Linked DNA regions of Homo sapiens: all the other regions are linked to region 3. The links come from fine-mapping of genetic effects on gene expression. A gene starts in region 3. Each other region holds a variant in brackets. All regions are shown on one strand. Distances are between the middles of the regions. Region 1 overlaps ANO6 (anoctamin 6). Region 2 overlaps ANO6 (anoctamin 6). Region 3 holds the start of ANO6 (anoctamin 6).

What was found.
Region 1: its variant is fine-mapped to the expression of ANO6 in whole blood (INTERVAL, PIP above 0.99).
Region 2: its variant is fine-mapped to the expression of ANO6 in whole blood (INTERVAL, PIP 0.97).

The regions. Positions count from the first base shown.
Region 1 is chr12:45,274,805-45,285,810 of GRCh38, forward strand. The region is part of intron 1 of ANO6 (anoctamin 6); the gene reads left to right. Among named protein-coding and RNA genes, the nearest start is that of ANO6, 64 kb to the left of the region's middle. The variant A/G (reference allele first, on the strand shown) is at 5,516.
Region 2 is chr12:45,411,904-45,422,909 of GRCh38, forward strand. It overlaps ANO6 (anoctamin 6), which reads left to right. Exons shown (of 20, transcript NM_001025356.3): 17 at 4,796-5,001; 18 at 9,168-9,370. All of the region lies in intron 5 of LOC105369743 (a long non-coding RNA gene), which reads right to left. Among named protein-coding and RNA genes, the nearest start is that of ANO6, 200 kb to the left of the region's middle. The variant A/G (reference allele first, on the strand shown) is at 5,986.
Region 3 is chr12:45,209,901-45,220,906 of GRCh38, forward strand. ANO6 (anoctamin 6) reads left to right here and starts at 6,195. Exons shown (of 20, transcript NM_001025356.3): 1 at 6,195-6,491. The coding sequence starts at 6,422. It also overlaps the pseudogene PLEKHA8P1. RefSeq lists enhancers at 5,961-6,060, 7,071-7,200 and a silencer at 6,521-6,830.

The sequences.
Region 1 (11,006 bases), 65 kb after region 3:
CTCTCCACCCTCTGTCACCTCCCAACTCCTTTCTCATCTAGGATGCTTGCTGCTGCACTTCCTTCAGTTCTCACTTGAATGTCACCTACTCAGAGCTGTCACCCCTGACTTATCTATCTAAAATGTCACTGTTACTCTGTATCCTCTTAACCTGCTTTGTCTTCAAAACATTTATCTCCAACTGAAATTAGTATATGTACATTTGTTTGTTGTCTCTATCCCAGTAGATTGTAAGCTCTGTAAGGACATTGATCCTGGTGCTCGATAAGTTGTATGACTGAAGGAGTTAGTAAATTAATGCTCTGGAATCCCTGTGTTAAAAATACTAAAGAATCAAACACCTTTCTCTAGACCCTTAGATCCGTCTCCATCTCTTACCCTGTTTCTCTGTCTCCTTTTATTTATTTTTTTATGTTTATTTTTTGAGATGGAATCTTGCTCTGTCGCCCAGGCTGGAGTGCAGTAGCGCCATCTCGGCTCACTGCAACCTCTGACTCCTGGGTTCAAGCAGTTCCCTGCCTCAGCCTCCCAAGTAGCTGGGATTACAGGCACCCGCCCCCACACCTGGCTAATTTTTGTATTTTTAGTAGAGATGGGGTTTCACCACATTGGCCAGGCTGGTCTCGAACTCCTGACCTCATGATCCACACGCCTCGACCTCCCAAAGTGCTGGGATTACAGGCATGAGCCACCATGCCCGGCCTGTCTGTCTCCTTTTAAAGCAAAACTTCTAAAATGTTGCCTACATGTACTACAGCTTCTTCATTACTCATTTATTTTTCAATCTGTTACGTATGGTGTCTTTTCCCATCACTCTTCTGAAATTGATTGTGGCAGAGTCATTCAAGATCTGTGTGTTGCTGCTTCCAATGGATACGTTTCTATCTTACTGGATCTCTGAGTGGCTTTAAGCAGTTTTCTATTGCCTTCTTGAAATTACCTTCTAACTTGGCCTTCCCCCTTCCCTACTGGCCATTTCTTGATCCTCTACTGGCATTTCCTTCATTACTTGGCCTCCTGGGAATGTTGAGAATTCTTCATGCTATGGTTTAAGCCATACCTCTTCTGTCTACATGCTCATCTATTTCAGGGGCTTTAAATACCATTAATTTGCTGACTCTCCAAGGTGTATATCTCCAACACTGAGCTCTTCTGAGTTCTAGACGCCGTACCCTCCTCCCTCCTTGACAGCACTCCTGGATGGATGTCTCATGTTCAGGGAGGAACTCTTGATTTGCTTCCATGTCCCATCTACCCCATCCTGCCTCTGCGCTCTGTGTCTTCACCATCTCAGTAAATGGTACCACCATCCTTCCAATTTACAAAGTCAGAAACCTGTATATCATCCTTGGTTTCTCTTCTATTGTCCTTCCTCTCCCCCCAGTACTTCTACCTTCAAAATGATTTTGAGTATCTTCTCTGTCTCCACTACTATCATCTTAGGCCAGCTTCGTCACCTGGACTTCAACATTAGTCTAATGACTGGGTCTGTCGTTTCCACTCCTGCCACAGAAGTATGCTCTGTGATGGTGTGGTGCCATCCCATTGTTTACCTGTCAGTGTTTACCTCACTTGTTCCCCAGCCTCTCATGTCTTCACTGCCCTGCAGTCACACCGATCTTTGATCATATCTTTGAGCACACCAAGATACTTTCTGCTTCAGAACTATGGTCTTGTTTTTTCTTTTTCCTTGCATGCTCTTTTTTTTAGCCCTGCATAGCCAACTCCTCATACTTCATGTCTCAAATATCACCCCTCAGGGAGGCTCCTGTGACCCACCCTACCCGAAATACTTCCATCTCTTAATCTCTGCTATATCAACTTGTTTATTTCCTTCATATCTCCAAGCAGAGTCAGTTATTTTAAAAGTACTTATATTTAGTTTTTATTGTGGAATATAAGCTTCCTAAAAAGGGACATTTTCTGTTTTATCTTCTGCATCTAGCACGTGCCTGGCATATAGTAGGTGCCAGAACAGTGATTCTTACGTTTATATGTGTTCATGCCATGAGCTCCCCGCCTTTTTTAATTGGGGGAGAAATGAAAAGTTTTTATTTTAGTCAAAGTTTTACATAATTAGTTAGAATGTTTACATAACTCAAAAATTAAATAATGTTGCAGGTTTTGTTATGAAAACCAGCTGCATCACCTTTTCTGTTCGCTGTTCCCCAGAGGCCAGGATTTTTAACTGTAGCTGATTCTTTTAGTAATTACCTCTATATCTCTGGTTAACATAATTAAATTATAATTTATCTATTTTTCAGTTTTAGGCATTATCTATTGATGCAGAAGTATTTAGCTCTTTTTCACCTACTCCAGCCCCCTTCCCTTCTCTCACAAACTTTCCCAACCCCATTCCCTCAATTGTAATTGTGTTATAATTTTGGTAAGATCAGTATGCAGTGTTTACTTTATTATAACTATGTAATACTTTCCACAGATGAGCTATATAATATAGTTTGATTACTTTTCCTCTGGAGACTGTACAGCAGATACTGATATTATTAGTTTTTCATATAGTTATGAATAATTCAACCTCACACTTTTACCCAATTGTAAATCTCCTCTCAGTGTAATCAGCCATGCATGGAATCCTGTCAAATTCATCCTTTGGGGGAGATTCCTCCCACAGCCTTCTGATCTCCTCCACGCTGCCCAGGTTGGTCTTTAGACCTCAGCCGAGTGAGGGATTCCTTTTCACCACCATCCTGAGAACTTGTATTGGAGCCCTACATTTATGTCTTATTTTTTGTTGGTTTACTATTTTATTTTGATGGAGCATATTTCTCAGTGTCTTATGTAGAAAGGGTTAAAGGCAGGTAATTTTTTTTTAAACTTGCGGGTCTGACAATGCTTGTATTTTTCTCTGGCTTTCAGTTGACAGCTTGACTAAGTATATAATTCAAAGGTGGAAATTATCTGCTCTCAGAATTTTGAAGCCTTCTACTTTCAGGAGTTGCTCTTGAAAAGTTCCTGCCATTCTGACTTATGATCCTTTGTATGAAAAACTTTTCCGCTCTGGAATTTTGTGGATTTTTTTCTTTGAACGCAGTACTTAGAAATTCCATAATGATTAGTATGGTGGAAACTCAGGAGACCCTTTCACTATGGCAAGCCCCACCCAATTCATTTTTTTAAGTTAAAAAAATTATTATATGTATTTTTTAGAGATAGGGTCTTGCTCTGTTGCCCAGGCTGGAGTAGGTGGCACAATCATAGCTCATTCCACCCTCAAACTCCTAGCTCAAGCTATCCTCCCCGCTCAAACCACCCTCCACCTCGTAGCTAAGACTATATGCATGCACCACACCTGGCTAATTTTTAAATTTTTTTGTAGAGACAGGGTCTCTCTGTGTTGCCCAGGCTGGTCTGGAACTCTAGGCCTTAAGTGATCCTCCCCACCTTAGCCCCCAGAGTGCTGGGATTACAGGTGTGAGCCACCGTGCCCAACCCCCAACTCCATTTTTTAAAGGAAAAAAGTGTCCTTCAGTTTGTTTTCAGTCGTGGGAGAAAGGTGTTCTTTAATTCCTAATCCTTTTCAATTTGGGGAAATTTCTTTGACAGTTACTTGCCTTCCATTTTGTCTAATCCATGAATACGTCTGTTATTTGGATATTGGCTATCCTGAATTGGTTCTCCAATTTTCCATGTTTCCTATTTTTCACCTCTTTTTGCTTAACTTTATTGAACATTTCCTGAATTTTATCTTTCAAGCCTTCTGTATCATTTTAATTTCCAAAAGCTCTTTTTTTTATTCTTTGACTATTTCTCTCTTTCTCCCTCTCTCCCTTTGGTAACATCTTGTCCTTATTTCATGGATGCACTTTTCTCAATCTCTGATGATGCAAGAGTTTTTTGTTGTTTGTTTTAAGCGTCTTTTTCATGTGATTTCTCCCTCTTCACCAAGTTGCTTTGCTGTTTCTCTGTTAGATGCCCTCTCAGTGTCTGGGAAGTCTTGTCCCTTCTAATTTTTGAGTAGCTGTCTAGAAAGATGGCTGGAAGTTCTGTAGTAGTGGATGGCATTTGGCAATTATGCACTTCACTTTAGGGTGACCTGTTTGGCTGTTTGTTTAGGAAACTCTGTTAGTAATTTTAGGCCGTCCCTCCACCCACCCCTCCAAGTTAATCAGACCAAGAGAAAATACAGCTAGTCAGAAAGCTAAGTAGAAGTCTAGGAGTCTCAACATTCAGCAGTAATCTTTTGTGTAATCTGTCTTTTCAGTATGGGATCCCCATCCTCAACTGTGCCTAGTATCCTCTTGTCTGAAGAGCCTCTGTTCACTCTTTCCAGAGAATACCTTTCAAGTCTTTTCCTAGGTAGGGTGGGGTTGGGAGGCAACCACTTGTCTTTAAGCCTTGAGGAAGGGAATCTGGAGGTCCAACTCCTCAATAAACAGACTTACGACCATTCTCCTGCCCTACCTTCAGTCCCACTTCCAGAGGAGCCTGTGCTGCCAGCCTCTTGAGGGCTTATAATTTAAATGAAATTGCTTCGAGGCTTTCCTATTTTAGTATTTAGCTTTCTCCAATTGGCTAAGTAGTTGCACTTGCCTAACACAATGTCTCCCCAAATTGTGTTACTGTCTCTCCTCCTCTATTTTCTTTGTCTTTATTGGTTTATGTTCTGGTAGTACTTGAGGAGGGGGCAGAGCTAAATGCATATATTCAGTCTTCCATCTTTAAATAAAGTTTCACCGACATGAGTTTTTAATTGTTTACAAGGCATTTGATCACACTTCTGAAACAAATTTCTGTGTGACCTCTGAGTCCCCATTTCACCGTAATTCTTTTGTTACATTATGGGGCGAGTACGTGGAAAGCCCCTGGGTCAGTGTTTAGGACACTTGGGTTCCATTCCCACATTTGCTACAAACTCTTTAATCCTGGGCATCCTGCCTTGTCATTATTTCTGTTCCATAAGACTAAGGAATTAAAAATGATTTTAAGATCTCTTTTTACGCATAGATTTATTTCCAAGAAGTTGAGATAATTGTATGTAACTGAACACCGGAATAGGAAACAGAGTTGTGGCAGCCAGTTGAAGAAATGTGAAGTTAAGTTTCTCCTTGTATTTTTTAGTCAGTCTCAGTAATTCTGACATTTTCAAAGTCAGGTAAAATTGCAACCCACATTTCATGAACAAGAGCTGTTAAAAGGTTAAAAATTGTGGATTTTTTTTCCTCTGGGCTATTTTCAGCTGATAACAGTTCAGCTCCAAAGCACACTTGGATTCATGTTCTCAATAGCCAGATAAAATGTTAGTTTTGAACAGAAGAACAGGAAAGATAATAGAGGTCTATTTTTTCCCCTTTTGCCCTCTGGCAAGGATGGCCATCCTGGGAGCACCCATCAGGAAATGTGTCCTTCCCATCAAAGCCATGTTTGAAAAGATAATACGCCCATCTCTGTATATTTTTTTTCTCTTTTCTAAGTTGCTGCTTCTCAGCTGGATGGAAAGACAAAGTGGACATGGCATGTCACCGTGACTTTGAGTGACGAGTTTGATCAGTAACCC[A/G]GTGTGCTCAGCTGTGGTCAGTACAATGACTGAGGAGAAAATGTGGTTGTGAGATCAGTGACCCTGTGGCCTACAGACCAAAGGGCAGTGCTTCACAAATTGCCATGTACATGGGACCCAACCCCTCACCAATTACTAGCACAGAATCTCCATCAGGCAAGGTGTAGGAATCATTTTGCATAGTTCTCCTGGTTATTGTTACACATTTGATTCTTGCACTGATTCTGGGAAAACATTGCCTTGGGACAGGAAGCCAAAAAGAAAATTGGAGTCTTGAATATTTACAGAGCTCAGAAGAAAAACCCAGCAGAATGGAAACTGATCCTGGCACACCGAGTCAGCAGATGCTCTCCTATCAATCACAGAAACTGTTTCAAACTCTCACTGTCTTCCTCTATTCCACACCCTCTTGGCCTCTCAGTAGATCATTTTCTTAAATCAGAAAGGAAAGGAAACCTGCAGGGGCTACTGCCTCAACTTCTTTTATCTCCCTTCCTCCAAAAATGCATATACATTGTGTGCATGTAAATTGTATCATATATGTGTTTTTATATATATATAGAGAGAGAGAGAGAGAATATATGTATATTTTATATATAATGCATATATAAATGCATGTTTACATTCATCTTTGCTTCTCCCATCTGTCATCTTTCTGATAAATGTTAATGCCTTCACCTATGCCTCTCTCCATCAGTGATCCTCCTGTGTTTTTCTTTCACTGTTTTCCATCAACGTGTGTATGTGTATATGTGTGTGTGTGAATAGGTAATATGAATACAAGTTTCATCTTATAAAACAAGGCACAAAAAATGAACAAAAATATATCTTCCTCAACCCTACCTTATTTATTCATTTAGTAAATATGTATTAGGGTCAACTGTGTACAAAGATTCTGGCTAACTACTGAGGTTCTACAGCAAACTAAATAGGTACAGCTTCTGTCCTCATGATGCTTGTAGTCTCTTTTTAACCAGCCTTCTTTAAAAATCATTGGTCTTATTTTTTCCCATGTTATTCCATTCTTGTGTTGCTGTAAAGGAATACCTGTGACTGGGTAATTTATAAAGAAAATAAGTTTATTTTGGCTCACAGTTCTGCAGGCTATACAGGAAGTGCACTGTTGGCATCTGCTTCTAGGAGGGCCTCAGGGAGCTTACAATCATGGCGGAAGGCGAAGGGGAGGCAGCATGTCCCATAGCGAGAGCAGGAGCAAGAGAGAGAGGAGAATACCATACTCTTTTAAAACAGCCAGATCTCATGTGAACTGAGCAAGAACTCATAAGCATGGGGATGGTGCTCAGCCATTCATGAGACATCTACCCCCATGGTCCATTACCTCCCACTAGATGCTGCATCCAACATTCGGGATTACATTTCAACAGGAGATTTGAAGGAGACAAACAGCCAAACCATATCATTCCCCATTACAGAAATAACATCTGTTTGTTATCTTAAATTTGAAAGTGGTTTCCTAATGGGAAGCTATTAAAGTATTTAAAGCAGAAAAGTACTGGGTCAGAATTTTATTTTCAAAGATTGCTTTGGCTACTGAAAAGATAAGTGATTAAAAGGGGATGAAAGTTGCTGGCAGGTGGGCGGGCGGTCAGGAGGTTGGTGCAATAGTCCCAATAACAGATGCAAGGGGCTTGGCAGGATGAGATGAAGAGAGGAAGACAGTCAAGAACTCTTCAGCACCATAGGAGAGTGAATGTTTGGCTGTGGGGGATGCGGAAGGGAGGCTAGTCAAGGATGACAACCAGGTTTCTGGCTTGACCAGCCAAATAAGGGGGGTTACCATTTATGCAGACAAGAAATATTGAAGAACAGCTTTGAGTGTGTTTGTGGTTGAGAGGGAAGCATAAGTCCTGTGTGTTAATACTGAGTCTGAGATGCCTGGGACATTTCCAAGTCAAGATGTTGCATAGGCAGTTGGATATGTGAATCTGTGGCTCAGAAGAGATGGCTGAAATAGAGCAATGCATTTGGAACCTTTAGTCTACCTGTGTTAACAGTTGCCAGCAGACAAAGAGGAGCAGGGCTTGGATGGAGCCCTGAATATTTTCAGAAGTCAAGGCGCAGTCAAGGAGGAGGCACCAATGGAGGAAATCAGAGAAATGGAAGACCCTCTAAGAGAATGAAACCAAGAGGAGAGAGTCTTCAAAAGAAGTCGTGGCCAGCCGTGTCAAAGCTCATTGAGATGTCAAGTAAGGCAAAAATGTAAAATGGGCATTAGGTTTAGCAGCATGCAAGTCACTATGGACCTTAGAGCCGGCTGGTGACTGATGGGGGCTGAGTCCATGGTAGAGGAGTGCCAGCGTACTTTGACCTTATCAGTAGTAGTAAGGACTATGTTATAATGCAATAGGTGCAGTGGAAAGGCTGATTAAAGTTGTTTTAACTTTTTTGATAACCTTTTATCTTTATTGTTTTATTCTGATTACAAAGCAATATATTTTACAATGAGTCATTGTAAAAGTTCTAAACATTAGAAAGTATAACTGAGAATCATCTCCATAATTGCATTCTCTCATATATAGCCACTGTTAATAGTTTGAGGTGTATCCTTCAAGACTTTTCTGTACATGTGCTATTGCTCGCTCTCTCATACACACTTACATTACAAAAATTGGCTTTATTGCTATGTCGTTGGCCAGAGTTTGTGTTTTTGTTCTGTATATTATAGACATGTTACTCCCTAAAGTAGAAGCATACTATTCTATTGTGCTGTAGTGTTGTCTGGATATTTTAGTTTTACTTAGAAATTTTGGTGTCTCTCATAATGTTACACTCAACATCTTAACGTACTTATGCATATTTATATTTTTCCAAATGTGTACAGGAATTAAGTAGAATTTGTGAGGTCGAAGTATATGCACATTTAACATTTGATAGTGATACATTTCCTAAGGAGAGGCTTTTTACTTTTTTAAGATGGAATAAATCTGAGCATGAAAAATGTTGACAAAGGTGAAAATGAAGCGTAGGTTGAAGTCACAGTAAAAAGTGCTGAAGTCACAAGAAGTCCTGTGGGAATGGGAGTCATGGCATAGGAGGAGGCTTTGGGCTATGATCAGAAGGGATATGCCACCTCTCCCATGAGGAGGAGTGGGTAGATGGGACAGGATGGGGAAAGGCAAAGTCCTCAGTTACTGCTGTATTTCCAGAGCTTGCCCAGTGCTTACGTTTAGCAAGAGTGCCACAAACATTTATTGGTTGAAGGAATAAATATAATTTGGTTGATTCAGTTATATAATTTAATGTTTCCATGTAATAGCATCTATTTTTTCTACTCTGTCTACATAATGGGAGCTAAGATTTCCTGCTGAAACTGGTGAAGGAAGAGTTAGATTTAAAAGGCCCTTCTTACTTAGTGAACCCAGTAGGTAAAGTCAGACAGGACTCGTAGTCTAAGCATTTCTCATCTTCCTTTCCTATGAGCCTGCAGGGCCTGTTGATTCTAATACCTTAATGTCACCGGAATCCATGTATTTCTGTTTATCCCCACTACCACCATCACTGTTATTCCAGCCTGGGTTTTCCTATCACAACAACCTCTTAGATTGTCTCTCACTTCCTCTTATGCATCCATAAGGACATGGTTTAGGGGTGTCAAGGCCAAAGGAAAACTTCCCCTTTGCTTTCTGAAGGTTTGCTGAAAATCACTGACAAGAGGCAGATTAATAGGATAAAAGGCATACAAATTTATTTGATCATAGTTTTAGATGATATGGAAACCTTCAGAATGAAGACCCAAAGATACAGGGGAAATTGTCCATTTTTATGCTTAGATTCAAGAAAGTATAGACAGCCATGTAGAAACACAATTGGAAAAAAGGGTCTGATCTAATGCGAATAGACAGAATGGGGAAACCCAGCAAGGCCTGTGTGTCCAGACGCTTCTTGACCTCTCTAAGCAGCATTCCTTCTTTCTGGGTAAGACTCTCTGGAATGTGGATTTTAACCTACAGTCAAACAGTGTAGATCAGATAAGTACTTTATGGCCAGAATCTTATGGCCAGAATTTCTTTATCTCCACCTTTCTGTATAATTTTGTAAAAAATCCCTCAAAAGGAATTCTGGCTTCTAAACTCATCTTCTAGTTTCTGTGGCCAGCCTCAGGGGAGAAGGGGATTGAGAGATACGCGGGCAGGAGAAGGTCAGAGAAAAACTTTTGCTTCTAAGGCTGCTGCTAAGGCCTTTATTTTAAAAGGGGTGTTGTTTGCTGATGCCCACCAGGGGCTACCTCGTCCAACTCCCAGCCAGGCTGCTTTAGGAGTCTCTTCTTGGGCTCCCCCAGCCATTTGCAGGCATCTGTTCTCCCCAGATGGTCACTGGTATGTTTTATTTACCTAAAGCCTTCACACGTAAAATACCTTAGTGACTGTTGTCGTGTATCTAAGACCTACTGTAATGCTTAGCTCATCCTGCATGCCAAGTAAATGATAGTTATTATGTGTGAAAGTCTGATGCCTGTATAAATTTGGCGCATAAAAGGAAAGGACAAGGACAAAAGCAGGCCTCAGATGAAACCACAAAGGACCAGTAATTTAAGACATTTAATCCTGGAACAAGCCTCAGGATTATTACTCCCTAGGGAGGGGCAATCTGAGTTATATGTCATTTCTGTTATTTCTGTAATTAACATGTTAAGTGCATATTTAAGAAATTTTAAGTAGCTTGAATCTCTAAGATGATTTAGCTGTAGTCAGATAATCTGTTTATTTTGTAAGATCTCAACTAAAGAACTAAATTGTGATATTTTCTGGAGTAAAAATACTTAAATTTCCTTAGCTATGCCTGGCCACCTGGAGAATATAATCACATGATTGAAGTCCAGGTTGGGATTCTAGAAGAAATGGCCTTCACAGACCTATTAAATAAAGAGCTTCCCAATTTGAAGGCAGTGTTCCTGCCTGCCATCCATCACCATGCCCCACCCCATCTACTGAGGAGAGTAGTAGGAAGTAGTTACCAACTAGCACCTGAATATAATTTTAAGTTACAGAATCAACTATCAAAGTATAATGAAAGAAGAGACACGAGGAGTTGATTATTTGTGGAGAAAACAGCATAGATTCAAGCCCCTTATAAAAGTTACATATTCAGAGTTGAGAAATGCTGCAGTAAAAAGGCTACCGAGGCCGGGGGCGGTGGCTCACGCCTGTAATCCCAGCACTTTGGGAGGCTGAGGCAGGCGAATCACAGGTCAGGAGATCACCAACATGGTGAAACCTTGTCTCTACTAAAATACAAAAAATTAGCCAGGCGTTGTGCTACGCACCTGTAGTCCCAGCTACTCAGGAGGCTGAGGCAGGAGAATCGCTTGAACCCGGGAGGCAGAGGTTGCAGTGAGCCGAGATCGCGCCACTGCACTCCAGCCTAGCAACAGAACAAGACTCCGTCTCAAAAAAAAAAAAAAGAAAAAGAAAAAAAAAGGCTCCCAAGTAATTGTGTGGAGCACCTGCATCAATGGGATGGTCTGGAGAGG
Region 2 (11,006 bases), 200 kb after region 3:
TCTGCTAGAGCGCCAGTGCCTGGAACCTTATACTCATAAACATTTAAGCAACTTGAACTTGGAGCTCCAACACACATATAAAACTGTTAGTTGATTTCACATTAACATCCTTCACCCACTTCTCACCAAGTTCTGTATGACCTGTTTGAGTGAAACGTTTTTTATTTAGTGAATTTCCCACCATCCTTTGAGATTATTGGAGTAACTCTGAGCTGTTAACCCAAATTGCTTCTCTAAGAGTGTTCCTGACTCCAAGTACACAGACACAGAACATAATAAACGTAGTTGTCTGTATTCAAACCTGGAAGCCATAAATACTGTTTTGTACTCAGTAATGTACTGCAGACACAGGTGTCCTGAGAACTTGATGAGGCCTTCCTGGTGGGCAAGTGCCATAAACAGAGTGCACTGAAGTGATGAGTGGGCCCTGTTTGTCTCTGGCACTGCCTCTTCCACCCTTGCCGTGGTACCTTGATCTCACTTTCATCTGTCTCCAAGTTAATTTTTTAAAATCTGCTAAAACAATGACCTTCATATATGATTTTCTCCATGTAATGAAGATCAGCTATTCTTCAGCAGCTCCTCGTACCCCTTTCTTTTTCTTCCTCCTATGCTGAACCCACCGATGCCTCTGCTGCACTCTCCAGGACTCAGGCCTTCTTCCCTTCATGCTCTCATCTCTGCTTGGTTCGAGCCCATCACCTGCCATGAAGTCTCCTAACCTTTGCAGGATGAGCTTTCCAAAAGGGCAACTAGGTAATTGGGAGGATTTGCAGTCCTCCAGCTCTTCATTTGTTCATTCATTCATTCACTCATTCATCCATTAAACATTTATTAAGCACTTGCTGTGCCAAACACTCTCAGTTGCTGGGGATACCAGGGCACTTGGTCCCTCCCCTCACGGAGCTCAGCGCTTGGTGCATGGTTAAGGAGAATGCTAATCAGACTTCCTTGAGCAGGTGATATTTGAACTGGATTTTGAAGGGTGAATGGAAGTTAGTTATCTAAAGTATGGTGAAGAGAATGGACATTTTGTGTGGAGAGGTGGACATATTTAAAAGTACAATAGCTTGATCAAAGAATGGCAAGTGAACAAAGGACTCACAGGTGGGAATATCAGGTAGGCAGGGGCCATATCATGATGGGTCTGGTGTGCTTAGCCTGAGGACTTGAACTTTATTCTTAAAGAAATTAGGATCCACTGGAATATTTGTAAACAAGATAACTGCATAACATTTATGTGGAATAAGATCAATCACGCAGCAGAATGGAAGATAATATTTTGGATGAGATTCGTGGTGGGAGGGAGATGATTTAGGAGGCTACAGCAGGTAACCCAGACAACAAGTGATAGGTGCCTAAATAGTGGGCATAGGAGTAGAGAGAGGGAGATGGATTTGGTAAGTGTTAAAGCGGTGAATTGCATAGCAGATGAGGAATAAAATTAAGATAACTTCCAGGAGACCATATATGCAGGGCAGAACATAAGGAGAGGAGCTGTTCTCTAGGAAATGCCTAAGTGTTGGATATTTTTAGCATGAAAACATCTGAAAGGCAATGTCCATTAGAAAGTTGGACACAACAGTCAGGAGCTCAGAGGAGCCATGGGTGAGGCCACGAGGGTGAATCAGGCATGCCTAGCAGGAATATCAAGAGAGATGGACAGAGAATTGATGATGAGGCCCGGGGGTAAAGGGACATTTGAAGAGTGAAGAGTGAGGGAGGCTCACAAAGAAAAAGAAGAGCAGAGCAGTGGGAAGAAGTCTAGCAGAGTTGTGTCAACACAGAGAAGGCTTGGGAGATGATAACGTTGCTTCAGAGGAATTTGGACATGATGGAAAAGGGGCATAATGGGAAATACAGAGGGGGAAGAAAGGAAGAGCCAGCACCTACACAAGTCCTAATTGCTAGACCTGGGTTGGGAAGTGGAAGCAGTGCTATAGCTAGGTAGGGCTTTTTTAGTTTTTTTGTTTTTCAATATATATTTTGACTTTTTAAAACTAAGTAAAAAAGAAATCAAGGGGAAACAAATATTCCACAGCAGGGGGACTGTTTGACCATGTCACATAAATCTTGGCCGTACATTTCTTATGGCCATGTTACAAGAAATCACAAAAATCAGGACTGAAAAGGAACATCAGCTTATGAACATGCAGCCACTGGCAAAGTTAGCAAGAGTAGGTCCAGTGCAGTGGTGAGGGTCTCAGCAGGATGCGGGGCTTCAGGGAGTAGTTACTCTACCACTTGTTGTGAAGGTGGACACTTCCTTCAGAAAACTCAACTGTAACATGTAGAAGCAAGCAGAGAAAGCATTAGAGAGCAGTATAGGATTATGAAAAAGTTGCAGGCAAGGGTTGTTTTTTTTTCAGTGGGTGTTTTGCGTTGACTTTTTGTTGTTGTTATTCTTGGTTTCAAAAGTTGCTTATAAAATTTTTCTCACTTGAATATCAGAACAAATTATATGGGCTTTTTCTGGTGTTTTATTTTTAATATAATATTTTTAATCCATCTGGAATTTATTTTGGTGTCAGAAGTGATGGCCCCATACCAATTTTTCCCATGACTTAGCTAGCTGTGTCAATACTTGCATCCACTGCTTCAAAGTATCACTTTATAATATATAAAAACCCATGAATATTTGCATCTCCTCTTAAAATTCACCCTGGTTAATTCATACTATCTATTCATATACTAGTTCTAAACTGTTTCAATTACCATAGCATTATAATACACTCAATATCTCCCAGAGCTATCCCATTTTATTTTTTCACAATGTTCCCAATACTGTCTATGCAAACATCCCTGTTCATTATTTTACCTGTTTATATTTCTTGAAGAACTTTAGTATCACTTTTCAGCTTTTCTTTTCTTTCTTTGAAAGACAGGGTCTCGCCCTGTTGCCCAGGCTGGAGTGCAGTGGCACAATCCCGGCTCACTGCAACCTCCGCCTCCTCATCTAAAGCAATCCTCCCACCTCATCCTCCTGGGTAGCTGAGACTACAGGCTCGTACCACCATGCCCAGCTAATTTTTGTATTTTTTGTAGAGACAGGGTATGTTGCCTAGGCTGGTCTCAAACTCCTGGGCTCAAATAATCCTCCCGCCTCAGCCTCCCAAAGTGCTGGGATTACAGAGATTAGCTGCCATGCCTGGCTGACCTGTCAGCTTTTTTTTCTTAAATCCATTTGGGATTACTAACAGAATTTACATTAGAATTCTAAATTATTTTGTGGAAAAAAAATTTGATATGTCCCTGAATTCAAGTTTGCCCAATCAAGAGTTTGGCACATCCTACCACTCATTCATTCATCATTATTTGTTTTTTCTTAAGTCAATTATCATAGTGGTCTTAGTTTTCTCATTAATTTATTTCTAAATAGTTTATGCTTTTGTTGTCATTATAAATGGTATCTTTTCTCTTTTGGATTTTTAACAAGGTTTACTGATAACATAATCCTAATCTCTGGCTTCTCTTGAACAATCAGGAGATCTGGCAACATGGAGCCCTCATTCCAACATGGCAACTATGAGCTGTCCCTTTCCATAGGACACACGCTTGCTAGTTTACCACAGTTGACGGGCTGACTCCACACATGGCTATTACTTGCATGCCCTGCGGGCTGATGAGTTATTTAGGGTTGGGTGAGTCATAGGGAAGTTGACATCACTGCTTATTGCTGCTGCTCATGACTCTGTAGCATCACCAACTCTGGTCCTTGCCTGGCTGACTTCTCTGCATGAGTGTTCCTGCCTGGCCTGTGGGACTTACTGGATCCTTCTAGCCCTGTCTGCTCTTCTGCAACATGCCCTTTGGCTCTCTGACCAGAAGCAAATGCCAGCTCTGCTTGCCTCGCCACACCCTCCACAGCCTTGCCCTTCCTGACAGAGTCATCCCTGCCCCTTGTCTGAGCATGAGGCCTAATGGAACTCTATGTTTTCCTCCCATCCACAGTTTTAGTTACATATCTGTAGATGTTTCCTCTGAAGGTCTGCCAGTTAGGAGGGCAGGGTCTAAAACTTGAGGATATTTTCTTACTTCTTCCTCTCCGTGGTATCACTTACCCCAAAATCTCTGCTGCCCCATTTTTAATAAGGCCGTGTCAATTACAAACAAGGAGAAAAGAACTTCTAAGCCACCACTCAAATTTTGACTTATTATGACCACAAGGACTGCAACTAACTTCAAGATTCTTAAGGAAGGATATTATAATTTATTAAGACACTTTTATCACATATATTTCTGTGATTTCTATTACTGTCAAATTCTCTGAATGCACTGCATTTGCATTTGCAGACTCAGGGGAGCTCACTCATTTGCTTGTTCTCAGCATATTTCTTCTAACGTTCTCTAAGTATAGCCTTCCCATGGGTCCATTTCTTTTTGTCTTTAACTTGTTAGATAATGCCACAATATTTCTTTTTTCTTAAAAAAAAAATCCTAAACCACAAATCTTCTTTCAACATTCTATTTCAACACTGAGAATGAATAATATGCTTATGATGTCTCAAGTTTATTACCAGCGAATAATTCTGGTTGACTAAAGATGTCTAAATATATTGTTCCTATTAAGTGTATACATGTGAAAGAAACAGGCTATAATTAATCTTCTTTCCAGAGATTTTATATTTGTGTTTTGTTTGAATTCTTTCACTGTTGAACACTAAATTATTATTTACCACAGATGTGTTTTCTCTCTGGGATTTAGTTCGTTTGCCTTTCTCTTTCAAGAGTAAAGGAAAATATGTTGTCCTTCCATCCACCACCACTCCATGATGTGTGTCCATTCCATTGACAGTTATTCAGTTTGGGTTCGTCACCTTATTTGTGGCCTCTTTTCCACTGGCCCCTCTGTTGGCTCTCGTGAACAATATATTGGAAATAAGAGTGGACGCATGGAAACTGACCACCCAGTTTAGACGCCTGGTACCAGAGAAAGCCCAAGACATTGGAGCATGGCAGCCCATCATGCAAGGAATAGCAATTCTGGCTGTGGTGACCAATGTGAGTAGACCTAAGCTTTACAGAGTAAAGACCTTGAAGATGCATTAGATTTGCTACCTAAGGAATCAAATGTTTAGTGTTTTTTAAAATGAGAGGAAGATGCTAAGTCTGTCATCCACATAAATGATATAGTTGCTATATATAACCACTTGTTAAATGTATTTTCATTTTGTATATAATTATTTTTAACTGTCAAGACCTCCTATACAGGTACTGTTATTGCTCATTTGCTAAAGTTTTTATTCAGTATGAAATATGGTAATGATAAGAAGTACTAACACTTTTAATCCTCACATAACTATAAAAGGAGTTATCAGAAAATGTTTTTTTTATAATGTGGGTAGAAATCTGTTCATTTAGAGTTTGAGGGCCCTAAAATAAGATCATTCTACCATATTTTACTACTACATATTCCAAAGCATCACCCTAAAATATTGACTCTGATGGTGAAGTATAAACACTTTGTGCACTCCTAATTACCTTCCTTGACTCCAGAGCAGCAGCTCTTAAAGGAGGAAGGTGGGTGGGTTTCATCACCCTTCCCACCCCACCCTTAGGTCTTTGCTCACCATGCTTTGGTCATTGGCTGAAGCAGCCTCATGCCCTGTATGTATCCCAGCTGTGAGGGGACAGAACTCAGTTGTTTACAGCCTGTATTCATTGATTATGGGCCATCTGAACAGTGTCATTTTTATGTACAGGCACACAGGAAGTTCTCAGGCAATGCAATTTTCATGCCAGCCCATTAGAGGACCACCTTCCCAAGAAGTATCCCAAAACTAGGGCCATTTCCTCCCATATTTCACTGACAGTCTCACTCCCAGGTGAACCTCCCTAACAAAGTGATTCCCCAGTTTTGTTTTCTTAAGCCACATCTTCCCTGAGTCCCCAGCCAAAACAACAGAAGTTGGCAGTGCCTGTAGTTTAGGCTCTGGATGAGGGAAGTTACTGAGCACTGTAGGCTCTAGAGTCAGGTAGACCCGA[A/G]CTCCACTTCCCAGCACTGTAGCTCTGAGCTGCATGATCTTGAGCCAGGCCTTACCACTCCAGAGCCCTATTTTATTATTTGTAAAATTATTAATTCCCTACCACATATCATAAGAATAGTACATACCAACCACAGTGTTAGGGAATTCATTGAGTTAATGCATGAAGCCTCGTTTCTATTGAATGTTAGCTGCTGTTATTTTATCATCTTCATTACTCATCATTGTTATTAACAGTAACGCTGTGAGGACTCTGACAGGTACCCCAATTGGAGGCACAGGAATTCCAAAAGCAACCACTGTCTGGACAATGGTTACAGTTTTATACAATAAAACAAGTTATCTGGAACCTAGCTGTCATCCCTACCCCAGAACCGTACATTTATCTGAATTGCATGCTATCTGTACTATTTGGAGAAAGTTGCAAATCGCACACAAAAACCAACTACTGGGGTATGTCAGTTTCCTTTCACCCAGGTACCCCACACCTTCAACATCTACTGTGCTGCAAAATGAAGACTGCTGTTTAGAAAAATGGCAGTGAGGCCTTTCAAGTTCCTCAGTCATAAAACAATGAACATGACAGCACGTTCAATATGCTCTAGTACACTAAGCTGGACAAGAACATGGACTTGTGTGCTTTAAGAAAATTTTCAGCAACAAAGTTTGAAACTAAAAGGGTTTTTATTTTACCTTCAACTAACCAGAAAATTCAGTTGACTCAAACTCTCCCTATTCCTCAAGCATTCTAGATTGATTGTATTAGGTACCTTTTCCCAGCATCCATGCCATGGCTCTACTCCATGAGCACAGATGGAGGATTGGCTGTTTCCAAGGCGACTCAGTGTGTGTATGTGTACAGACATTCACTCTGGCTAATTGGTGCTATTGGTTCTTATCCAATAATGGCTTTTTCTTATCACTTAACCTAGGAAAACTGCTTATTAGATTTGTGACATTGATTAAACTATGGGCAATCCCTTTTTCCATATTAGGATTTGTTATACTTCCAAGATGGCAGTTATACATCCACATACATAGACATCTATGTTTATATGTGTGCTTGTGCAAGCATTAAATGTGTGTCTTATTCCCTCAAACACCCAGTGTGTATCTCACAACCTACTGTCTACAAAAAGAGAATAACCACCAGGATGAGAGTGGGCATCAAGCAGGAATTTGGTATAAAATCATTCATTTTAAAGCTGCTGGTTCAATAAATAAGCTGAATTGACATTGTTGTATCATGCCAGAGCATCTGTTATTGAAGACCAATTTTAATTTATTTTTATATAAATGGAAAACTGTGTGCAGAACAGCATGGGAAATGAAACACACTGCATTTATTTGTGCTCTTGCAGCATGTCTCTCAGAGCAGCTCAATTCAGGAAGAAAAGTATCTTGTCAGAAGACAATAGAATTATCTTCCTTGTTGGAATTTTTTGTAGCTTCTGATGCACATCTGCCAGTGATTCTATAAAAAGATATAGTTGAGTTAAATGATAATAGCAAAATTTAATCTATTGAAATCTGAGGGAAAAAAGGTAAAATATTCGTGTGGCTCCCCAGTACTGACAGGCAGAAACACACTCATATGTATATGTACATTTTTCACATCAGAGGAAATGACAAAGCTGGTTCTAGTGAGGGAAATTTTGTAATAGAAAAGCCCCCTAATTGTTTTTTCTTGCTTTGCCTGAGATTTGGTTTGTGGTCTCACTATGCCTAAACCATATGTTCAGATGAATACTATTAAAAATCATGTTAAGCCAAAAACATGTCTACTTTTCTGCTTCATCAATGACAATCATTTAGCTGTTTTATTCACATAGAATTTGGTTTAAAGTAAAAATCCTTTCTCCTTCCTTCCAACCAGTTTTACACACTGGAGAGTTTAAAGCCCAAATTAAAGAATTTTAGAGAAAATTCATATAATTCAGAATAGCTTTACCTCCTAATAGATGTCTCTCTGATACACAGGTTTATGATTGGCCCATATTTACTCCTTTTATCTAGGAACATACTAAATTTTCTGTATGTTGTTGTTCAACTTATAATTTTCATAACTTCATCCACTTAATCTTTTTGAAGTTTAGAGACTTAGATACTAGATCAGACTAAACAGACATTATTGTTTGACTATGAATGGGACAACCCCAATATAATTCTACTACCCAAATTTTGTTAAAATTAATAAATGCTCACACTCTATAATGAAGCAACAAACATAACCATGTACTGAGAGTTTAAAACAAATCAGGTCATGGTTTGACTTGTGTAAACAAGTCATAATACTATACAGGAAAAAAGTGAACTTAGAGGTCATTATTTAAATTTAGATCAAGGAAAACATGCAGTTTACCTTCTGTGTTTATGAAAAGAGCTAAATCAATTATATAAAGCTCAATTATTTTCATAATGTTGACTCTGATTACATGTGCAAGTCTTCTAGGCTGAGATCAGTGGCTCGTACCTATAATCCCAGCACTTGGAGAGGCTGAGAGGATTGCTTGAGGCCAGGAGTTCCAGACTAGGCTAGACAACATAGTAAGACCCTATCTCTACAAAAAATGTTTAAAGATTAGCCAGGCATGGTGGAGTGTACCTGTAATTCTAGCTACTCAGGAGGATCACTTGAACCAAGGAGTTCGAGGTTACAGTGAGCTGTGATCATGCCAGTGCACTCCAGCCTGGGCAACAGAGCAAGATCTTATCTCACTATCTGCATATATTTTGCAGTTAAGAAAAAATTAAGATTTCTGAATCTTTAAAAAAAATTGACACGATGAAAATAGTAATTCTGGCATATTTGTTAACCTGACCTATACAAACTATAACTTCGGCCAGGTGCAGTGGCTCACGCCTGTAATCCCAGCACTTTGGGAGGCTGAGGTGGGCAGATCACCTGAGACCAGGAGTTCGAGACCAGGAGTTCAAGACCAGCCTGGCCAACATGACAAAACCCTGTCTCTACTAAAAGTACAAAAATTAGCCAGGCGTGGTGGCACGTGCCTGTAATCCCAGCTACTCAGGAGGCTGAGGCAGGAGAATTTTTTGAACCCAAGAGGTGGAGGTTGCAGTGAGCCGAGATCGTGCCATGCAGCCTGGGCAGCAAGAGCGAGACTCCGTCTCAAAAACAAAAAACTATAACTTCATTTTCGCTTTGTTTTTCTCCCAAAATAGGCCATGATCATAGCTTTCACGTCGGACATGATCCCCCGCCTAGTGTACTACTGGTCCTTCTCCGTCCCTCCCTACGGGGACCACACTTCCTACACCATGGAAGGGTACATCAACAACACTCTCTCCATCTTCAAAGTCGCAGACTTCAAAAACAAAAGCAAGGGAAACCCGTACTCTGACCTGGGTAACCATACCACATGCAGGCAAGTTCTGCTTTACTTGTTTAAAAATGCACTTCATCTTTAAAAGGGTTTTTCTTGTGACTTAATTCTGTTTGGTGTCATTTTTAAAATTTTTATTTCTTTATAACTTCAGGATCAATCAGGTGCTTTGGTGTCATTTAAATCAAGCTGCTAGAGACATTTTTTCCCCATAGCTTTCTCTTGAGTGAAACTCAGAAAATGTATATATATGTATATTTATTAAAAAGTTAATGAAGACTAGGGGTAAAACTTTCAGACCAGGGGTAAAACTTTCAGACCAAACCATAAAGATTTAAAGTTGAGAGTTTCAAACGATTACAGGGAGATTGATTCCAAAGAAAAGTCATAGAAATAGAGAAACTTCAAGAGGTCCAAGAACCAAGATAATTCAGTTGTTAATACTATTGTGTTATTCAAGCACAATCTGAAGATATTGAATGATGGCAAACTAGCACCTCACATAACAGGGACATACAAAGATAAGAGATGTGAAATCTCAGCTGAACAGTATTATCTAAAAATATTCCAAAGTTCTCTGCATCGATTTTAATGGCTGGTGAGTTCAACAGTGGACAGTATGTACCAGGTAAATTACCAATTGATAAAGTTTGTGAACTGTAGGTCATCAACCTTTTTTCCTGGACCATAGAGTTTTACCTAAAATAGGAGGCTTTAAAGTTTATTTAGTCCAACTCCTCAAAGCCTTCACTAACTCAGATTCTCAATGATGCAACCAGGAAACCAGAAATAAGCCCAAAATAAATGTTTGTGTTACACCTAGTGGAGCCTCTTTACAATTCTGCATCAAATCTGCTTATTCTTACTTTCCACAATTCTAATCAGAAATTAAACTCTTCTAGGTTTAATAGCTTACAGGCATAAAATTAGAGATGTCCTACCTGAGGAAGATACACTAACAGCAGTTAACACTTGATATCTGACAACAAAGAATTAGGTAAAAAATTATAACAAGCAGATAGCACTCTGTATGAGGAGAGAGAGTCCCATAGCTGAGTGAACCCTGATGATACCATTATATAAATAAATTTATAAATATGATCCCCAAAACAGGAATTGTTTTGAGAAAACAGGGATAAATGTTGGGAGAACAAATTTAAAACTTTAGTTCTTTTATAAAGATGGATTCTTTTCTACAAAGATGGACCATGTTATTACCATCATTCTCTGATTAAATATTAAATGAGGCACTACTGTAGTTATTTTGGGGCTTTGTTACCAAATTGAGCTTTAAGAGAAAATGTATGTGATGTCCAGTTTAAAAGAGCATTGAATCAAATATGACTTTTTTTTTTTTTTTTGAGACAGCGTCCTGCTCTGTTGCCCAGACAGGAGTGCAGTGACACCATATCAGCTCCCTGCAACCTTCACCTCTCGGGTTCAAGCAATTCTCATGCCTCAGCCACCAAATAGCTGCGATTACAAGCACGTGCTACCACACCTGGCTAATTTTTGTATTTTTAGTAGAGACGGGGTTTTACCATAGTGGCCAGGCTGGTGTCGCACTCCTGGCCTCAAGTGATCCACATGCCTCAGCCTCCCAAAGTGCTAGGATTACAGGCATGAGCCACTGCACCCGGCATGACCTCTTTTTAAATGGGGCCTTTGTTTACAGTAT
Region 3 (11,006 bases):
AGTCCTAGCTAGAGCAATCAGGCAAGAGAAAGAAATAAAAGGCATCTAAAGAGGAAGAGAGAGAATGAAACTATTTCTCTTTGCAGATGATTGATTCTATACCTAGGAAACCCCATAGACTCTGCCAGAAGGATCCTAGAACTGATGATACATAACTTTAGAAAAGTTTGAGGATATAAAATCAATGTACAAAAATCAGCAGCATTTCTATACACTAATAACAGCCAACCTGAGAGCCGAATCAAGAACACAATCCTGGCTGGGCACATGACTCAAGCCTGTAATCCCAGCACTTTGGGAGGCTGAGGCAGGAGGATCTCTTGAGCCCTGGAGTTCAAGACCAGCCTGGGCAACACAGGCAGACCCTCTTTATAAAAATTAAAACAAATATTACCAAAGCATGGTGACATGTGGCTGTAGTCCCAGCTACTCAGGAGGCTGAGACAGGAGGAAAGCTTGAGCCTGGGAGGTCAAGGCTACAGTGAGCTGTGATTTTGCCACTGCACTCCAGCCTAGGTGACAGAGTGAGACCCCATCTCAAAAAAAAAAAAAAAAAAAAGAAAAGAAAGAAAAAAGAAAAAGAACAAAAAAGAGAGAAAGGAATCCCGTTTACAGTAACTACTAAAAGAAAAGGATACAATACCAAAGAACAGAGCTTACCAAGGAGGTGAAAGATCTCTGCAATGAGAATTACAAAACACTGCAGCAAGAAATCAGAGATGACACAAACTAAGGGAAAAGCATTCCATGCTAATGGATAGAAATAATCAATATTGTTAAAATGGCCATACTGCCCAAAGCAATTTATAGACTAAATCCTATTCCTGTCAATCTATCAGCTATTTTTCACAGAATTAGAAAAAAGTATTCTAAAATTCATATGAAACCAAAAAGAGCCCAAATCACCAAAGCAATCCGAAGCAAAAATAACAAAGCTGGGCTGGGTGTGGTGGCTCACACCTGTAATCCCAGTACTTTGGGAGGCTGAGGCAGGTGGATCACTTGAGGCCAGGAGTTCGAGACCAGACTGGCCAACATGGTGAAATACTATCTCTACTAAAAATATAAAAATTAGCTGGGTGTTGTGGTGTGCACCTGTAGTCCCAGCTACTTGGAAGGCTGAGGCAGGAGAATGGCTTGAACCCAGGAGGTGGAGGTTGCAGTGAGCCGAGATCAGGCCACTGCATTCCAGCCTGGGCAACAGAGCGAGACTCCGTCTCAGATAAATAAAATAAAATAAAATAACATAAAATAAAATAACTAAAATAAAATAAAATAAATAAAATAACAAAGCTAGAACAAAGAACAAATAACATCACAGTGCCTGACTTCAAACCAAAGGCTATAGTAACCAAAAGAGCATGATGTGTACAAAAACAGACATATAGACCAATGGAATAGGATACAGAACCCCAAAATGAAGCCACATATCTACAATCACCTGATCTTTAAAAAGTCAATAATAACAAACAATGAGGAAAGGACTCCCTATTCAATAAATGGTGCTGGGATAACTGGCTAGTCATATGCGGAAAGTTGAAACTGGACCATTTCTTTTCGCCACATAAAAAAGTTAACTCAAGACAGATTCAAGACTTAAATGTAAGACCTAGAACAATAAAAACCCTGGAAGAAAACCTAGAAAGTACCATACTGGACATTGGTCTTGACAAAGTATTTATGACTAAGTCCCAGAAAACAATGGCAACAAAAACAAAAATTGACAAGTGGGACCTACTAAAGAGCTTTGGCATGGCAAAAGAAACTATCGACAGAGTATATAGACAATTTACAGAATGGGAGAAATTATTTACAAACTATGCATCAGACAAAGGTCTAATATCTAGAATCTGTAAGGAACTTAATTCAACAGACAAAAAAGAAACAATCCCATTAAAACATGCAAAAGGAAATCAACGGACACTTCTCAAAAGAAGATATACACGTGGCCAACAAATATATGAAAAAAATGCTTATCATCACTAATCATTAGAGAAATGCAAATCAAAACTGCAATGAGATACCATCTCACACCAGTCAGAATGGACATTACTGAAAAGTCAAAAACAACAGATGCTGTTGAGGTTGTAGAGAAAAGGTAATGCTTATACACCGCTGGTGGGAATGTAAATTAGTTCAGCCACTATGGAAAGCAGTTTGGAGATTTTTCAAAGAACTCAAAACTACCATTCAACCCAGCAATCCCACTACTGGTTAAACACCCAAAGAAAAATAAATCGTCCTACTAAAAAGATGAACATGCACTGGTATGTTCACTGCAGCACTATTCACAACAGCAAAGACATGGAATCAACCAAGACACTCATCAATGATGGACTAGATAAAGAAAATGTGGTATATATATATACCATGAAATACCATGCAGCCATAGAAAAGAACCAAATCATGTCCTTTACAGCAACATGGATGCAGCTGGAGGCCATTATCCTAAGCAGATTAATGCAGGGACAGAAAAACCAAATACTGCACATTACCACTTGTAAGTAGGAACTAAACATTTAATACACATGGATACAAAGATGGAGACAATAGACACTGGAGACTGCTTAAGCGGGGAGAGTGGGAGTGGGGTGGGTTGGAAAGCTATTTATTGGGTACTACGCTCAATACCTGGGTGACAGGATCATTCATACACCAAACCTCAGCAACATACAATTTACCCATAACAAAACTGCACATGTACCCCCAGAACCTAAAATAAAAGTAGAAGAAGAAAAGAAAAGAATTTCAGGATGGCAACCACAGAATCTTTTTTAAAAAATTATTTTAAGTTCTGGGATACATGTGCAGGATGAGCAGGTTTGTTACATAGGTAAACGTGTGCCGTGGTAGTTTGCTGAACCTACCAACTCATCACCTAGGTATTAAGCCCCACATGCATTAGCTATTTATCCTGATGCCCTCCCTCCCCCCACCCCACCCCCCGACAGTGTGTGTTGTTCCCCTCCCTGTATCCATGTGTTCTCTTTGTTCAGCTCCCGCTTATGAGTGAGAACATGTGGTGTTTGGTTTTCTGTTCCTGTGTTAGTTTGCTGAGGATAATGGCTTCCAGCTTCATCCATGTCCCTGCAAAGGACATGATCTCATTCCTTTTTGTGGCTGCATAGTATGGTGTATATGTACCACATTTTCTTTATCTAGTCTATCATTGATGGGCATTAACCACAGAACATTTAAATCCCAAGTGTTAGGCCCATAAGAGTGTAGGGCTCTGTGTGAATACACTGTTTGAATGCCCATCAAGCTGACCCTGCCTGGATTAGATAGTAAAGTTATAGGACTGAATGAGTTCTATAGGGAAAGATGAGAAGAAAAGAGACCCAAGACCTGAAGCTAGAAAAGCAACAACTTTTACAGGATGGGCAGAGAAAGAATATCCTGGTGGCCAAAAGTTGTATTTAATCAGATGAATGAATGAGAAAATAATTGTTCTGCGATCCCTGACTTGAAAAAGCTTTGCAAATACAAATAACCTGGCTGTATATTAATATTTTATTTCACAAATTATTATTGTATGGATGATAATTCTTCAGGGTTAAATGTGTGGTTCTTACATAGGCCTATTATCCTATTTCTGAGGCATATATTGATTGCTCAACTGAAAAAAAATGCAGAAGAGAAGTGGTAGGAAATAAAATGGATTAGAGGAAAGAATGGAATTTACTAATAATAGAGTTCCCTTCTAGCAACAGTTACCTTTACATATAAGGCCAACAATGTTTCGCTGCAACATTTATCAAAGAAGAAAAATGTAAACTCTTAAAAATCTGTGAAGAATTCTAAATGACTAATTAAAACTTGTTGCAAAGTCAACTTCGATAATTTTTTAACTACAAAGTAACTTTGACCGAAGTCTTAGTCCATAAAAATGAGAACAAGGCCGGGCGCGGTGGCTCACGCCTGTAATCCCAGCACTTTGGGAGGCAGAGGCGGGCGGATCACGAGGTCGGGAGATCTAGACCATCCTGGCTAACACGGTGAAACCCCGTCCCTACTAAAAATACAAAAAATTAGCTGGGCGTGGTGGTGGGCGCCTGTAGTCCCAGCTACTCCGGAGGCTGAGGCAGGAGAATGGCGTGACCCTGGGAGGTGGAGCTTGCAGTGAGCCGAGATCTAGCCACTGCACTACAGCCTGGGTGACAGAGCGCGACTCTGTCTTAAAAAAAAAAAGAGAGAACATTTGGTTAAAGAACTATGGCAGGGAGTTGATGAGACTTTGAATTTTGAATTGGTGGGGGAAAAAGTGATCTGAAAAAAAAATGGATTGGGACATGTCTCTGGAGGTGGTTTATGAAGAGGCTATGAGCACTGATTCTGAAACAAGCTGTTGAGGTTTCAATCCTGGCTCCACTATTTATTCCCTGTGTGATTTTGGACAAGTTGCTCAAGTTGCCTCACACCTGAAGAAAAATGATAACACTTTCTAGGGTTGTTATGAGGGTTGAATGACTGGATGCTTATAAAACATGTAAAACTTTTCCTAGCACATAAAAAGTACTACACAAAAATTTGTTAAAAGAAAATTGTAAAAATTGATCATGTAACCAAAACACTTTTGAAGTTTCTACTTTTAGTGAGTTTCACAAGCTCAGGGGAGAGTGTTCAGTGAAAGGAAACAATCTCTTCTCATCTTTCTTCTCCCATCATTTTTTTCTCCTATCTTCAGAGTACTGTATTGTTGTCTCTTTATACTAAAAACAATTCTGTTTATTCAAAAAAAGTACCTCAAGAAGCAAGTATAGTGTTTCCCAGGTATTTTCTTAAAAGTAATTTCATCATGTCTTTTCATGTATATATTCATGTCTATTTTCCCACTTAAGATTGGTCCCAATGTTTTCTTTCTTTCAGAGAGAACATTAAAAATGTTAGGAAACTGAGGTGCAAGGATTGCTGGAGGCCAGGAGTTCGAAACCAGCCTGGGCAACATAGTGAGACACCCATCTCTACAAAAAAATTTAAGAATAAGCCCCACATGGTGGTGTGCTCCGCTTGTAGTTCTAGTTACTGAACTCCCACCTCGGCAACAGAGCGAGACCGTCTTAAAAAAAGTATGTGGAAGAAAAAACATGCACAGTAGATTTAGTGTTATTGTGATAACCCTAGCACTTCAGTGGAAAAAATATAAACAATTTCAATGAGTAGACAATAACACATATAACCAAGATTTCAAATATACCTTCTAGCCCTTTTGAGAAGTCAAAATTGAACAACCTGAATGTACCAGCTTTTTTGAAAAAAGTTTTGTAGACACGCGATCCCCAAAACCTGCCGTTCAAACAACTCCAAGGGTCTTTAAAGTACTAAATCCCTTTGTATTTGTCCTATCGGTCCCTTTGGTTTCCAGGAAAGCATTAAAAATAAAAATAAAAACTCTCTGCCTTAATTTTATTTCACGACTTTCTTTTCTCTTATTATAGCTTTCCACATTGCTTTAGAAGAGTTTACATCTAACTCTAGTGGTCTTCGGCTTCTTCTCCCTCTTTGACACAGAGGACTAGTTTCAATTGTACAAATAGGCTGGACGCTTCAGCGATTATCTTCCGACCACTCCCTGTGTGCTCGCGCGGGCGGAGTAGGGGGCGCTTCTCCACTCTCCGCGACCTCAATGTATGCGGAAATCCTCCTGCCTTTGTGCACACGTTTATTTAGAAAATTCTCTCCACCCCCACTCCCGTCCGTCCCGCCCCTTCTTCTTTTGCTTATTCTCTGAGTTTTGCCTCTCCTCCCACCCCGACTCCACCGTAATCTTAACCTACCCGTACAGATTCCACTTTCCCACTTCGGAGCTAGAGTAATTTAAGATCCCCCCATTATTAGCTCCACGTCGCCTTTAAAAGCCATTCAAACGAGTTCGCCTTCCAGGGTTCTGCAGTTGTGCTGCAGCAGCATTTCCCTCCTCTCCAGTATCAGACGTTAAAACAAAGCAAGCCACAGTGTGTGTCCACAGACGACCTTGGAACGAAAAGCTGCCCTGTTTGGGATCAATGCTCAGGGAACCCAGTCCACTCCCGCACTCACGTGTTCCCGCCTTGCCCTCCAGCTAGTTCCCCCGCGCGCAGGATCGCACTACTCCCTCTGCAGTCTCGCCTGCCGACTTCCTTCTGCGCGCCTCGTAAAACCGGGGAAGTTCAATCATTCCGCAGCGAGCCGCGGCGGCCGCACTGGGCATGCTCAGTCTCCGGGCTCCGCTCGGCAGGCGAGAGGCGTCCTCCGGCTCTGGGCTCCGGTCGGTGGGTGCCTCGGCTCGGCTTTCCCCGGCGCTGGCTGGGCTCAGCGGCCCCTGAGCCCAAGCGACACACGCCCCGCGGTCCCCGATCCGGCCCCTGGGAGAGCCGCGCCGTTCTGGAACCCGGGAGCCCCCAACTTCGCGCCAAGTTCGGAGCCGCCTTCTGAGGGAGACATGAAAAAGATGAGCAGGAATGTTTTGCTACAAATGGAGGAGGAGGAGGACGACGACGATGGGGATATCGGTGAGCGAGGGGTCCCCGCGTCCCCACCCGAGAGCCCGAGCCGACGCGGGAAGAAGTTCGGGGACTGCGCGGGGGCGCTGTGCTCTCCGCGGGGGAGGTTGGCCGAGACGCTCGGCCGCTCCGGGCAGGGGAGGAAGCCCGCTGTCCCCGGCTGCTTGCAGACTGAGGCCCCGGTGCGGCCCCTGCGGGGCTGAGGCGCGGGGCGCGTGGTGGCCCCGAGGACAGGCTCCTGACGGGCGGGGGATGCTGCCCCTGAAAAGCCTGGCAGCTGCGGGGACGCCTCTGCGTGCGGAAGTCTCCACTCAGAAGCAACTTTGGGGTCACTTCCCCGACTCGCAGAGTGCTAGGGTTGCCCAGGAGCCTCGGCACTGGGGCGAGCCCCCTGGGCGGGGTCCGGGGAGCAGGCCCGCATTTGGAGGACAGGGTGTGACCCATCTGAATCCTCGTTAAAGTAAAAGCCGACCGACGGCTCTGGGAGGTTTGAGGCCTGGCGGGGCGGCCCCGGGAAGTGATTTGTGGCCGCTAGGCGCGCGCTGGAAACCCTTTCCCATCTGCGGAGCCCACCGGAGCTGTGATCGGAGGAGGAATTCCCCCAGGCAGGGAGGACCGCAGGGCCTTTTTCACTCGTCCTGAGGGGCCCTGGGGCTTGGGGAGCAAACCTGGGGTGACCCATTTCTAGTTAGAGTTAAAAATGCATGGAAGTGACAAGACGAACGGAGGGAGAGCTGTTTTAAGAGCAAAAAAAGAAAAAAAGGGCAAACAAAAGGGATGAGAGGAGGTGAGGAAGGGGAAAGGAATGAGAGGACTAGAGAGAAAATCAGGTCCCTAAAGAGAACACTGTCGGGGGATGATGATATAATGTGTCCCTCCAGAAGACTCTAATTAAATTACCAAGCCAGTCTGTTGTGGCGACTCGGCTTAGTCTCCTGGATGCCAAATCAATTTTAAAGCAGAACATCCTGCTGATGTTCTAAAGCCCTGTTGTTATCTAATAACTTTAAAAGTAACTTAATTTTAGGAGTTGGGTGTGGTTTTTATTTCTGTTACATTTTGGGCACGGAATATTTCGATCAAAAAAATTTGGTAACTTCTTGGTTGTCCAGGGACAAATCGAATAGAGGAGATTACACTCCATGATTTAGTTTCACATTTCATTCATTCATTTAAGAACAATTTACTAGTTATTCATCTTTAAGGAGAGAGCAAATAGTAGTAGTTTTTATAGGAGAGAAAACTGAAGCGCACAGGTTGGTCTGCCCAGCTTCTCACACTTTCAAACCCAGGTTTTCTGACTTGTAAAACCAGTGAAGATTAATGCTCTTACCACTGGGTCACTCTGGCTGTTACTACTGTTTAGCAAGATTAAGTAGTACCTGATGATTACATAAAAATATAGGAGTGAAATTTAAAAAGTTACAATAAAATTGACACAGTCTGTTTCCCAGGAAAGTATTATTGTCTTTTATGGTGAGCTGCACTGTTTATAATGAGTATTGTAAGTAAATAAGGGCAGAAGCTCAAATGGAAACTGAAGTAAGCAAGAGGCTCTGAGCTTTGTTTTACTGTGCCAGCAGTAGATCTCAGTTTAGAAAGTAATTTGGTCTAGTCTGTGTTTACCTATTGAGGCATCGTATAAATTCATCTTAAGCGTGTGGCAGTAAGCTCTTTTTATTTTTAATGACATGTCATTCATGCTAGTTTTGTCCAGTCAAACAGTGTAGATAGACTTAAGAAAAAGTTAAATATCTCTACTCCTCCCCACCCTCTAGAAACTACTAATACTAATACTTTAGTGTTAATATTAGTAGGGCATTTCCCACTATTCCTGTGGGGCCCTGGGGTCTCTACTGTAGGGGTCATCTCAACATATTTTACGTCAAGCAGCAGGTACCATTTAAACAGGTCTTGGCAATATTTTTTTCTTCTCAGTGAATGAAAAGATATGCTGATGTTCTAACACCCAGTATCTATGAATGTGATTTCTGTTTCTTTCTTTCTCTTTTTTTTTTTTTTTTTTTTTTGAGATAGGGTCTCGCTCTGTCGTTTAGGCTAGAGTGCAGTGATGTGGTCATGGCTTATTACAGCCTCGACCTACGGGGCTCAAGCGATCCTCCCACTTAAGCCTCCCAAGTAGCTGGGACTTTAGGCACCACCATATCCACCTAGTTGGTTGTTTTTTTGGAAGTACAAATTTAATGTGGGTTGTAGTGATTTTATATCAGAAAATACTTAACTATGCCAATGTTAAGTTTATGCCTTTACAAAAGAATAAGCCTTTTTAAAGATTACCAGGAGTAGGCTGATAGTGGTCCAAAGCCTTTTACAAAATAATTATTATTTCCAACTGTGGGAGAGGAGACTGGTGAAATGAAGATAATTTTAACCTCTGCCTTTAATTTTGCAATGCACGTCTGTATTTACGCTATTAACTAATATTTCTCCTAGTACTTGATTGTCACTGTCAGTAGTTGTATAATAGTTTGAAACCCACTTGGGTACGGAAGATTTCTGTGAAATCCCTCTATTAATATTACCTTTATAATTCAGACTGGGAGAATTATTTTTAGAGACAGGGTCTTGCTCTGTCACCTAGGCTAGAGTGTAGTGGCAAGATCATAGTTCGCTGCAGTCTTGAACTCCTGGCCTCTAGCCATTCTGCTGCCTTTGCTTCCCAAAGCTCTGGGATTACAGGCATGAGCCACTGTACCCAGCCTTAGAATTATTTTGACACGAGTTCCTGGGTATACCATTGGGCGTTATAATGGCCTAATTTGCAAGAGACCTCCCCCTCCCCCCAAAAAAAAACTTTCTAACTGGATGGGGTCCCTGATTATATCATAGAGATGCTTTATGTATGTATATGGAAATGTGCCCTCTAGTAGCTGGAATTTAGAGCCTTTTAAACAGTGGGTTCCTGCTTACTTTTGAAACACTGTATTTTTATTGTACTTTTATTTATTCATTTAGAGACAGGGTCTCCCTCTGTCAGGCTGGAGTGCAGTGACGCAGTCACAGCTCACTGCAGCCTTGACTTCCCAGGCTCAAGCAATTCTCCAACCTTAGCCTCTTGAGTAGCTGGGACCACAGGCCTTGTGACACCATGCCTGGCCAATTTTTTTTTTTTTTTTTTTTTTGGTAGAGACAAGGTCTCACTGTTGCCCAGACTGGTTTCAAACTCCTGAGCTTAAGTGATTATCCTACCTCGGCTTCCCAAAGTGCTGGGATTACAGGTGTGAGCCACCATGCCTGGCTGTTCAGTACTTTATGTCAGTGTTGCCTCCTAGTTTAGAATGAACTGATCTGGAGAATCAAGGATAGTACATCTCACTATGGATGTCTTTTCCTTGTTTGTTTAAGTTACAGCCAGCAGAAATTATTTCCAAAGGCGTGCTTGTGTGGCAACCTGTTGGCATTAGAGCATTTTTGCAATAGGCCACTTATTTCTAAAGCAGAGCCAACAACCAACCACTGAAGCCACATCCAGGCAGTAGTAGTGGGAAATGTGTGGTTTGAAGCCCCTGTTGTGCTGGTGGAGATCACATATTGTTGCAAGCCCCTGGGAGTTAGGTTGTGTGCTACCCTGCCAAGTGTGCAAAAGAGTGTCCTTGGCTGCTTTTCGCCCCCTCATCAGCGGATTAAATTCAGCATCTCTTCTTGTTCATGTAGAATGCTATAGGAACAGCTTTTGTAGCCAGAATGCAGAAATCAGATTAGTATGCTGCTTTATTTTGTTTCTTCAATTCTGTTCTCTGTGGTCAAGCTTTGCTGAAGGAGGAAAAGTGGTTCCAAAAAAGACTATCAGGAACTATTCAGACTGTTCAGATAATGAGGTTTTGTTTGTGGATGGTTGGTTGGTTGCTTTGAGTTCCTAGTCTGTTTATGGTAGTTTACTGTCTGATCCCCATCACTAATGGTCATGTATGTCATTGAGGGGTAGACAGAGGACATGGTCCATTACCTTTGAGAGATAATGATCCAGCTATTGGCTCCCTTTTCAACTGTCACATTTTTACATAGACTTATCTTCCCACACCCACCTCTCTTTCCTTATTACCTACTTCAGGTTTAATCACCTATAAATCTGATACTAGCCCCAGTCTTCCTTCATAAACATTGATTGAGCAATCCTTCTGTGCTAGTTTCAGGATTAGGTGCTGGGTCAGGTGTTGGGAGACTGAAAATGAGTAAGACATACCTGTGTCTTCCAGGAGAAAAGTTCCTTAGAACCAGACTGTGATATTGTGAAATATATAAGGCATTCTTCCAGTTTCTTGGCATGCAACTCCTAAAACTTTTGGAATTTTCAAAGTGGTAAGTGTCTTTTTGTATGCTAATAAGTTGACAGATGGCTGGCAGCCCCTAGGTAGCTTCCTGATGGGGGCTGGTCACTGGAAAGACCAAGGCAGGATTAAAGGTTTGGACTTCCAGCCCCATCTACCAACCTGAAGAGGGGTAAGAGCCAGGCTGAAGGTTAAGCTGATCACCAGTGGCTAATGATTTAATCAATCATGCCTA